Regions from separate parts of the Homo sapiens genome. Here all the other regions are linked to region 3. Evidence: fine-mapped expression QTL. A gene starts in region 3. Each other region holds a variant in brackets. All regions are shown on one strand. Distances are between the middles of the regions.

Region 1 (2,753 bases), 29 kb before region 3:
GGGTCTCATTATGCTCCCAGGCTAGTCTCAAAATTCTGGGTTCAAGTGATCCTCCTGCCTTGGCCTCCTAAAGTGCTGTGATTACAGATGTGAGCCACCATGCCCAGCCTAGCTTTTCAAGTTTACAAAAGTCTTGCTAGGATTTTGACCGGAATTGCATTGCATCTGTAAGGTGAAATTGAGAGCTGATATTTTAAAAATATTAAGTCAGGCAATTCACGAGCCTGGGCTTTATCACCATTTATTTGGGTCTTGTTTAATGTCTCACAAAAACACTGTATAATTTTCCCCATGAAGATCCTCCATATGTTTTGTTGGGTTTACTCCAAGTTACTTTATGCCTTTGATGTTGTGAATGGTGTCTTTCCATTTTCATTTTCATTTTGACCATCAGAACTGGCTTCTGACGACCCTAAAGTAGAATCCTCACCCCTAGTTAGGACCCACGGGTCCCAGAGCCCTCACATCCTCCTCTCTGGCTTCCCAGAAGACCAGCTCGACAGGGGCCTCCTTGGGCACCCAGCAGCCATTGCTCTAGGTGGACCAGCGGTGGGGTGAGAGGACTCTGCCCACCCCGGACCCAGCTCCTCGGCTTCCCCTTCTAGGAGTTCAACTGAATGGGCAGTGAGAAGTGGGGACTCTCCAAGCCAGGCCATGCACCTGCTTCCCAGGGCTGGCCTGAGGCCGGCAGATGCCCTTATACCCTACCTGGGGCCCGCTCCTCTTGCCTGCCCTGCCTTACTTAACATCATAAACTTCATCCTGGAAAGAACCCTGATGTGATGGGTGGGCAGTGCCCTAGGAGGGGCTCAGACCCCAGTCCACGTAAGGAGATTCATCCTGCAGAGAAACCCCGTGAAATCCCAAGGGGAGAACATTCACCCAGTGAGTGCAATGAACTCACAGAAACGTTCAGGTCTAGGTAACCTGTTACCAACACCAGAGAATCCACACAGATAATTTGCACAGGAAGAAGCCCTGGCCAGGTGTACTGCTCACGCCTGTAATCCCATGCTTTGGGAGGCCGAGACAGGCAGACGGCTTGAGCCCAGGGTTTCGAGATCAGCCTGGGCAACATAGCAAGGCCTCGTCTCTACAAAAAAAAAAAAAATGAAAAAATTAGCCAGGCATGCCGTTGCACGCCCATGGTCCCAGCGACTCAGGAGGCTGGGGCAGGA[G/A]GATCGCTTGACCCAGGGAGGTTGAAGCTGCAGTGAGCAGAGATGGAGCCACTGCACTCCACCCTACGTGACAGAGCGAGACCCTGTCTCAAAAAAAGAAAGAAAAAAGAAACCTTGCAATGATCCTGAGAAAGGACTTTTAAATGTAGCGTGGAAGAGCTGGACAAACTGCAGCCTTTTGGTATGTCCATGTAAGTTCTAGAATTAGCTCAGAGAGTGGGTTTATGCTGGAAGGGAGCTTCCTCTACTGCCCAGCCTGTGCCACCCTGGATAAGTTACCTCTGAGTGAGTCCGTTAGTGGGTGAACATGGGAAAGATTACGTAATTGGAGAATAAATGGATTTACCACCAATGTCTTGTCATAGATTATAAGCCCGAGGGGCGGGTGTTAATTTTTCCAATTAAATTGGTGTGACATATAATTAAGGAATGTGCTCACAGGTAAGGAGCTGGGGTTTCATGGAAGAATGATTCTGCTTAGTGGCCTGACATTTTTGTGTCTCTTGCTTGCTCTGCATGCAAAAGCCTCACCGGTTCACTTGTTCACGCGGTCTCCTCGCCTGTGCTCCAAAACAGAGATTCTGGACCCCGGCCACACACAAGAATCATCTGGGGGTGATTTTTCAAAACGCTGATGCTAGATGCCAGCCCCTCTGCCCCTACCCCAGCTACAGTGGGATCTCTTAGAGGTGGGGGACTGGTCAGCATTTCTCCAAGCTCTTAGGAGTTTCAAATGAACAGCCCGAGCTGTGCCCCACTGCACCAGGGAGCTTGTGCCATCTGCTGCCACTCAGGCCCTGCCTGATCATCAGAGTCACTGGGAAGCTTCTAAAATTACAGGTTATGAGGCTTAACCCCAATGGCATTCTGTTTGACCAGCTCTTGGATGATGTCTGGAAATCCCTTTTTTTTTTTTTTTTTTTCTTAAAAAGATTCCAAACTGATTCTGATTATGAGCAGGTTTAGGAACCAATGCCATAAAGGGCGTGAAAACCAAGGTAGCAGCTGTCCCGCCAGGCAGGGAAGACCTGGGCACTCCCTAGGCCCTGCCATGCCCCACACCATCCTGGGCATCCTCCATCTTCACACCATTTGGTCTTCATTGAAGATCCCATGAGATCCTGTTCCTACCCCGTCATGCAGGAGGGACCGCTGAGGGCATCTGAACATTGTGCAGGAGGGAACGCTGAGGGCATCTGAACATTGTGCAGGAGGGAACACTGAGGGCATCTGAACATCGTGCGGGTGGGAACGCTGAGGGCATCTGAAGTTGAGGAGCTTGCCCACATCAGCAGTGGGGTGCAGGGGTTGGAATCCAGACCCAGACCCGCCTGCCTTGGCTCCATCCCACCTGCTGTCCGAGACTCTGGGCGCCTGCCTGTGGATCCAGGCTCCAGCACACCGCTCAGCAGGCCCCACAGTCCTGGGAGGTCCAAGCCCTGGAACAAAGCAAAGCGCAGGCCTGCGTCTACACACCTGTCTCTGTGGGCTCTGTTCCTCTGATGCAACCCTGACGGATCCATTAGTATGACTGGAATGTCCTTGGGATCAAAACTCACTTTTTTTTCTTCTTTA
Region 2 (2,753 bases), 41 kb before region 3:
GCCTTCTGGGTTCAAGCAAGTCTCCTGCCTCAGCCTCCCGAGTAGCTGGGACTACAGGCGTGCACCAACACGCCGGGCTAATTTTTGTTTTTTTGTTTTTTGGTAGAGTTGGGGTTTTACCCTGTTGGCCAGGCTGGTCTCGAACTCCTGACCTCAGGTGATCCTCCTGTCTCACCTCCCAAAGTGCTGGGATTACAGGCATGAGCGACCAGGCTCAGTCCTTTTTTTTTTTTTTTTTTTTTTTAACAAATTGTTGTTTTCAACATGTGCTTTTGCATAGGCAGAGAAAACTGTCTGGAAGCGGGAGCAAACTCCTGGGAATTGCTTTCAGAGACAGCAGTGGGGAGGGCGCTGCTTCTCACTTGAGGTACTGCTCTTTCATTTGGATCTTCTCGGCAGGCATGCTAATTCTGTAATGAAGAGTCAATGTCAATAAAAGAAAAGATGTATGTGGCTGAATCCCCACAGCAACTAGGCCCCTGCTCTCCTGTCTGGGGCTTGCAGGAGGCCTCCAGGGAGGTGACGCTCCACTGAGCACTGAAGTCAGGGAAAGAAGGGCGGGAAGGCAGCGCAGAAGCAACTGGGAAGGGGTGGGGCTTCCAGGAGAGACTGGGAGCCCCCCGCAGCCCAGCAGGCCTTGGGGTGCTGGGCAGGGTGCTCCATGCTGGACCAAGGTGAGTGGGCGCCCAGGTCCGGGATCTGGGATGTCAGCCGCAGGAGCAAGGAGGTGGTGGTAGGAGACAGCATGGCCCTGAGGGAGGCCCCCCTTGCCCCCAGCTTCCCCTACTGCGGTGCCCGTGAGTCATTCCCGGGTTCATTCCACAAACCTTCCCAGAACTCTGTGCCAGGCACTATGTGGGAAGTGGGGCTGGGGCTGGGGGAGACGCATCTTAGTGAGAACATCCCAGACCCCACAAAGCCCAGGCTGGTAAACACAGGCACAAGCGGAGACAGCCGTGTGGTACAGGGAGGCCTGCCTGGAGGAGGGGGTGCCCAGCTGCCTGGCCCCCTGCATCCTGCGCCTCCCCACATGCAGTTGGTCCCCCTGAAGTCCCTCCTGGGTGCTTTGGGAATATGTATGAAGGGCCCCGAGGGCCTTTCCATACTCCAGCCCCACCTCTGCCCTGGACTTCTCTCCCCAGCCCAAGCCCCATGCTTTAGACCTTCCTGACCCAAAAGCCCCTCCTGTTCTGAATGAGGAAACTGAGGCCCAGGCAGAGGAAAGGACTCAGCTTTTTGTTTTCACAAAGGTTGCACAAGTGATGCAACTTTCCTCACAACACGACGTGGGGGCCCCCAACTTGCAGGCCAGTGCCCCGCCCCGCAGCAC[G/A]CTCCTGCCCCATCGTTGTATGGACTTAGCACCCCTCACCTTGGCTCCCCCGTCCCAGGCCCAGGCTGGGTCTTTGTGACGGTCTCATGCAATCCCACACAACTTGTGAGGTTGCTGTTGCACTCCATTCTGCAAAATGCGGAGGCTGTGAGGAGACCTGTTGGAGCCAGGATTCAAGGAGCTTTCTCGGCTCCGGAGCACAGGGCTGCCTCTCCCAGGGTTTTCCAAATTCTGGGCTCTGCCTGCTTCCTCTGTCCTCCAGTGAGCATCCTGACTGCCCTGCCCTCTCCATCCTTCTCTGACCCCCAGGCTCCTTCTGTCCTGCACCCATCAGCTCACAGTTTTATGTTGCTGCCGCCTGGGGTCCTGCCCAGTGTCCCAGTTGGTGGGAAGCTCCTGAAGGGCAGGCCGGTGCAGGCACAGCTCTCTGAAGAAGGTTCTGAAGTTGTTGTTAAGACTGCAGTGGCCGGGCGTGGTGGCTCACACGTGTAATCCCAGCACTTTGAGAGGCCAAGGCAGGAGGACCACTTGAGCCTGGGAGTTCCAGACCAGCCTGGGCAACATAGTGAGACACCATTTCTACAAAATAAAAAAAAAAATTAGCCGAGCATAGTGGCGCAGGCCTGTAGTTCCAGCTACTCAGGAGGCTGAAGTGGGAGGATCGATTGAGCCCAGGAGGTTGAAGCTGCACTGAGTGAGGATTGCACCACTGCACTCCAGCCTGGGCAACAGACTGAGACCCTCTCAAAAAAATAAAATTAAATTAAATTAAAATTAAAAATAAATAAATAAAAGAAAGAGACAGAGACTGCAGTGAAAGAGAATCTGCAGAGAGGAAGGGGCTGTGTGTGACTTTGCATCCACAGGATTTTAATTTATGGAGGTGACTGTGCTGGCACAGAGAGGCCAGTGCCATGAGAGAAGTGCCGTCATGCCTGGGAGGATGTGAGGATGAGCGATATGACAGGAATGAGTGTGGGGTCAGCCCCAGGCCACCTAACAGCCAGGCCAGAGGTTGCCTGCTGGCACCTGGGCTCTGACCTTGTGTCTGAGCCCCACAAGACTCCAGGACCCTCTGCACCCCAGGCAAGACATGCCTACCCACTCGGTCTCCTTCAGAACCACGGACAGTGCCGGCGAGCACCACGCGCCACTGACCTGAGCTTCTAGTTAATTCCATATGGTGCCTCTGCCTCCTCCAGACTCAGCTGTCACCACGACCTGGCCAGCAGCAGGACCACCGGCACCCAGGTCTGACCTCAGGCTCCATCCCCTGCTGGACCCATGGGACCTGGCCCAGTGGCACCAGAATACCTGGGCCCCACCCCTGCCCTGGGCCCCACCCCTGCCCTGCGCTGCTGTTTCCTCAGCACTTGCTGTTTCCTCCCAGGCCACCTTCCCAGCAAACTCCCATTTATTTATC
Region 3 (2,753 bases):
ATGTCCCAAGCTGCTCCGCGACCTCAGTGATGCTTGGCACTTGTTAGCAGTTTTTACCTGAGCCACCTGGCAAGTGTGCAGTGGCACCCACCGCGATGCTGGCCGGCCCTTCCCTGACAGCCATCCCTTCCCGAGCCTATTGCCATCCCTGTGCCCTCTTCGGTCAAACGTCTGTTGCGGCTCTTGCCAATTTTCTAACTGGAATGTTTGTTTTCTTGCGGTAGAGTTTAGAGATTTTTACATATTATCAGCCTGGGGGCTCCTCCACCCACACAGCCCTGAGCGTCCACCCTGGCAGCTGTTGCCCGTCTGCAGGCCCCCCCGCCCTCTGCTCCGCGTGCCCCTCCAGCTCAGGGGTCCCCTCGCCTCGGCTCTCTGCACCCCTGCTCAAAACGGTCAAAGAACCCTCCCCGGCCGTTTATTTTTCCCAGAAAGTGACAATTTTCTCTTTTCAGGTCGTAAGCACAGAACTGAGGGAGAAACTGTGGCTGAACAAGAGGAAAATGAGGAAGGAGTCCATGAAGGGGCTTTGGGGAACCTGTAACATCCTCCTCAGGCTCCCGGGGACGCCCCTGGAAAGCAGGCAGAATCGAGGGCGCTGGGGCCCCCGCGAGGGGAGCGGGAGGTCGCGCGTCTCGCAGCGGTTCCCGGCCGCCGGTGACCATCGCTGCGGACACATCCCGAGGAGGGAACCCAAGAGGGCGGCGGGGGGGACTCGCGAGCTGAACGTGGAAGCAACTCCAGCCGAGGACCCCCGGAGGCCTGGAGTGCACGGAGGGGCCGCGGGCAGCGTGGGGACGGCGCCGTCATCTCCCGAAGCCCGGCCCCGCGCTGGCTCCCCGGGCGGTGCAGGGCCGGCGTCGGGAAGGAGGCTCCGAGGCGCCGGCTTCTGCGCCCCACGCAGCGCCGCTCCCCGCGCCCGGGCGCTTTGCAGGCGCGGGCGGGATCCGGGCCAGCGTGTACGCGAAAGCCACGCGCGGGCGCAGCCCACGAGGGGAGGGGCGGGGAAAGGCCTCCTCTTCGCTCCCGGCCCCGCCCCCACACGGCCACCGAGGCGTGCGGTCCTCCCGGGGCCCAGAGCGTCCCGGAAGTGCGCGCCGGCCGGGCGGAGTGGGGCGGGGCCGGACACTTCCGTCCGGCGCGCGGCGTCCTCCTCCCGCTCGGAAGGTGAGTGGGCGCGGGCGGCGGCGGCGGCTCCGGGTGCCTGGGACCAGCCCAGTCCGAGCTCGTGCGCCGTACTCCGCGGTGCAGCCCTGCCCAGCCGGGCCGTGCGGCCCTTGCAGCCGCCGCTCGCCGTGACCTTGGCCTTGGGCCAAGCCCGGGGAGCGGGGTGGGCTCCTGGGGGTCGCGGAGCAGCAGCGGACCGCCCCGCCCAGCGGCCCTGGCGATAGCGGGTGTCCGTTCGCAGGGCGCCTTTCCCAGGCACCCAGTGACGGCAGCTGTCGTCATCGCCACTCTGCAGATGGGAAACTGAGGCCCGGAGGTCCCGCCGCTCCGGAGCGAGGAGCCGCCGGACCCCAGCGCCGCACCGCCGGGCGGACGCGCTCTGTGCCGAGCTCCCGGCGATTGGGTCCGCTCCCACGGGGCTGGGAACAGAGGGGCAGAGGATGCTTCCCCCGAGCCGCTGGCAGGAGTGCCCTTCCCCCTTCAGTCTGGAGCTCAGAGTTTGTGCGTCCCTGGGGGTGAAGGGGCGTCCACGCTGTGATGGTCGCCTCTGCTCAGTCCTGGGGGCCAAGCCAGGGTCGGGGTGATCGAGCAGGCCCTTTTACCAGGTGTCCCCAGTAAGTTAACTAAGTAACTTGAGATGTGACTTCAGGGTGGAGGACCTGCACCCAGTGGCCACCTACCTGGTGACCTGACCCTTCCCATCATTAGGGGATGGAGGCTGGCCCAGAAGCCGGGCACTGGGGTGGCGGCCGTGTGGGAGCTGCCTCTCCCACTTCCTCGAAGCAGGCACTGTCTGCTGTTCTTAGATCTGAGTATCCGTTAACTTTTGTCCTCTTTTCCCGTTCCTTTCTTCACTCCCTGCCCCAGATTAGGAGTTCCTACTCTATCACAGTATGAAAGAAAAGTCACTTTTCACATTGGACTCAAGCCGTTTTTGCAAAGTAAACTAAGAAGTGTCTTGGAGCCCTGAGTGAGTCTCCCAGTGCTGCTGCAGGGCTGGACTAGGGGATTCCAGCCTGCAGTCTCTGAGGGCTCTGTAGGGTCTGAGGAAGAGAGTTGCCCTCTGGAAACGTCTCTTCTCTGCTGTTCGGGAAAAACCTTATTAAGATTTCCTCCAAAACACTCATGCGCAGCAGGCATGGTTCGGTTTTCAGCCCTCCCACAGGGCCAGCAGCTGAGGTTTTTCTGGAAGACTCCCTATGCCTTTCTCTGGGGGAGGGGTGATGCCACGGGCTGGAAGGAGATGCCAGAGCCTCTGCTGGGACAGGAGCTTCGCTTCAGCCCCCACAGGCGTCTGCTGTGCCGCCCAGGCGGTGGCTGCTTCCTAAGCGCGCCTTCCAAGGCGTTACTCCTTTGCTGCTGCTGCTGCTGCTGCTGTTGTTTGAGTCTTGCTGTGTCTCCCAGGCTGGAGTGCAGGGGCGCCATCTCGGCTCACTGCAACCTCCACCTCCTGATTTCAAGCTGTTCTCCTGCCTCAGCTTCCCAAGTAGCTGGGATTACAGGTGCCCGCCACTGCGCCCAGCTAATTTTTATATTTTTAGTAGAGATGGGGTTTCACCATATTAGACAGGCTGGTCTCAAACTCC

Direction of the effects. Positions count from the first base shown, and alleles are read on the strand shown. Sizes are in standard deviations (SD) of each study's normalised expression. Not every link is listed here.
As copies of G replace A in region 2, the expression in atrial appendage of the gene that starts at base 1,128 in region 3 goes down (small effect, 0.25 SD a copy in GTEx).

What was found.
Region 1: its variant is fine-mapped to the expression of GLI4 in whole blood (TOPMed, PIP 0.94).
Region 2: its variant is fine-mapped to the expression of GLI4 in atrial appendage (GTEx, PIP above 0.99).

Annotation. Positions count from the first base shown.
Region 1 is chr8:143,236,850-143,239,602 of GRCh38, forward strand. No RefSeq gene overlaps it. Among named protein-coding and RNA genes, the nearest start is that of ZFP41, 8.7 kb to the right of the region's middle. The variant G/A (reference allele first, on the strand shown) is at 1,179.
Region 2 is chr8:143,225,135-143,227,887 of GRCh38, forward strand. No RefSeq gene overlaps it. Among named protein-coding and RNA genes, the nearest start is that of GPIHBP1, 13 kb to the left of the region's middle. The variant G/A (reference allele first, on the strand shown) is at 1,331.
Region 3 is chr8:143,266,318-143,269,070 of GRCh38, forward strand. It overlaps GLI4 (GLI family zinc finger 4), which reads left to right and starts at 1,128. Exons shown (of 4, transcript NM_138465.4): 1 at 1,128-1,167. RefSeq lists silencers at 594-1,303, 1,464-1,583 and an enhancer at 2,144-2,753.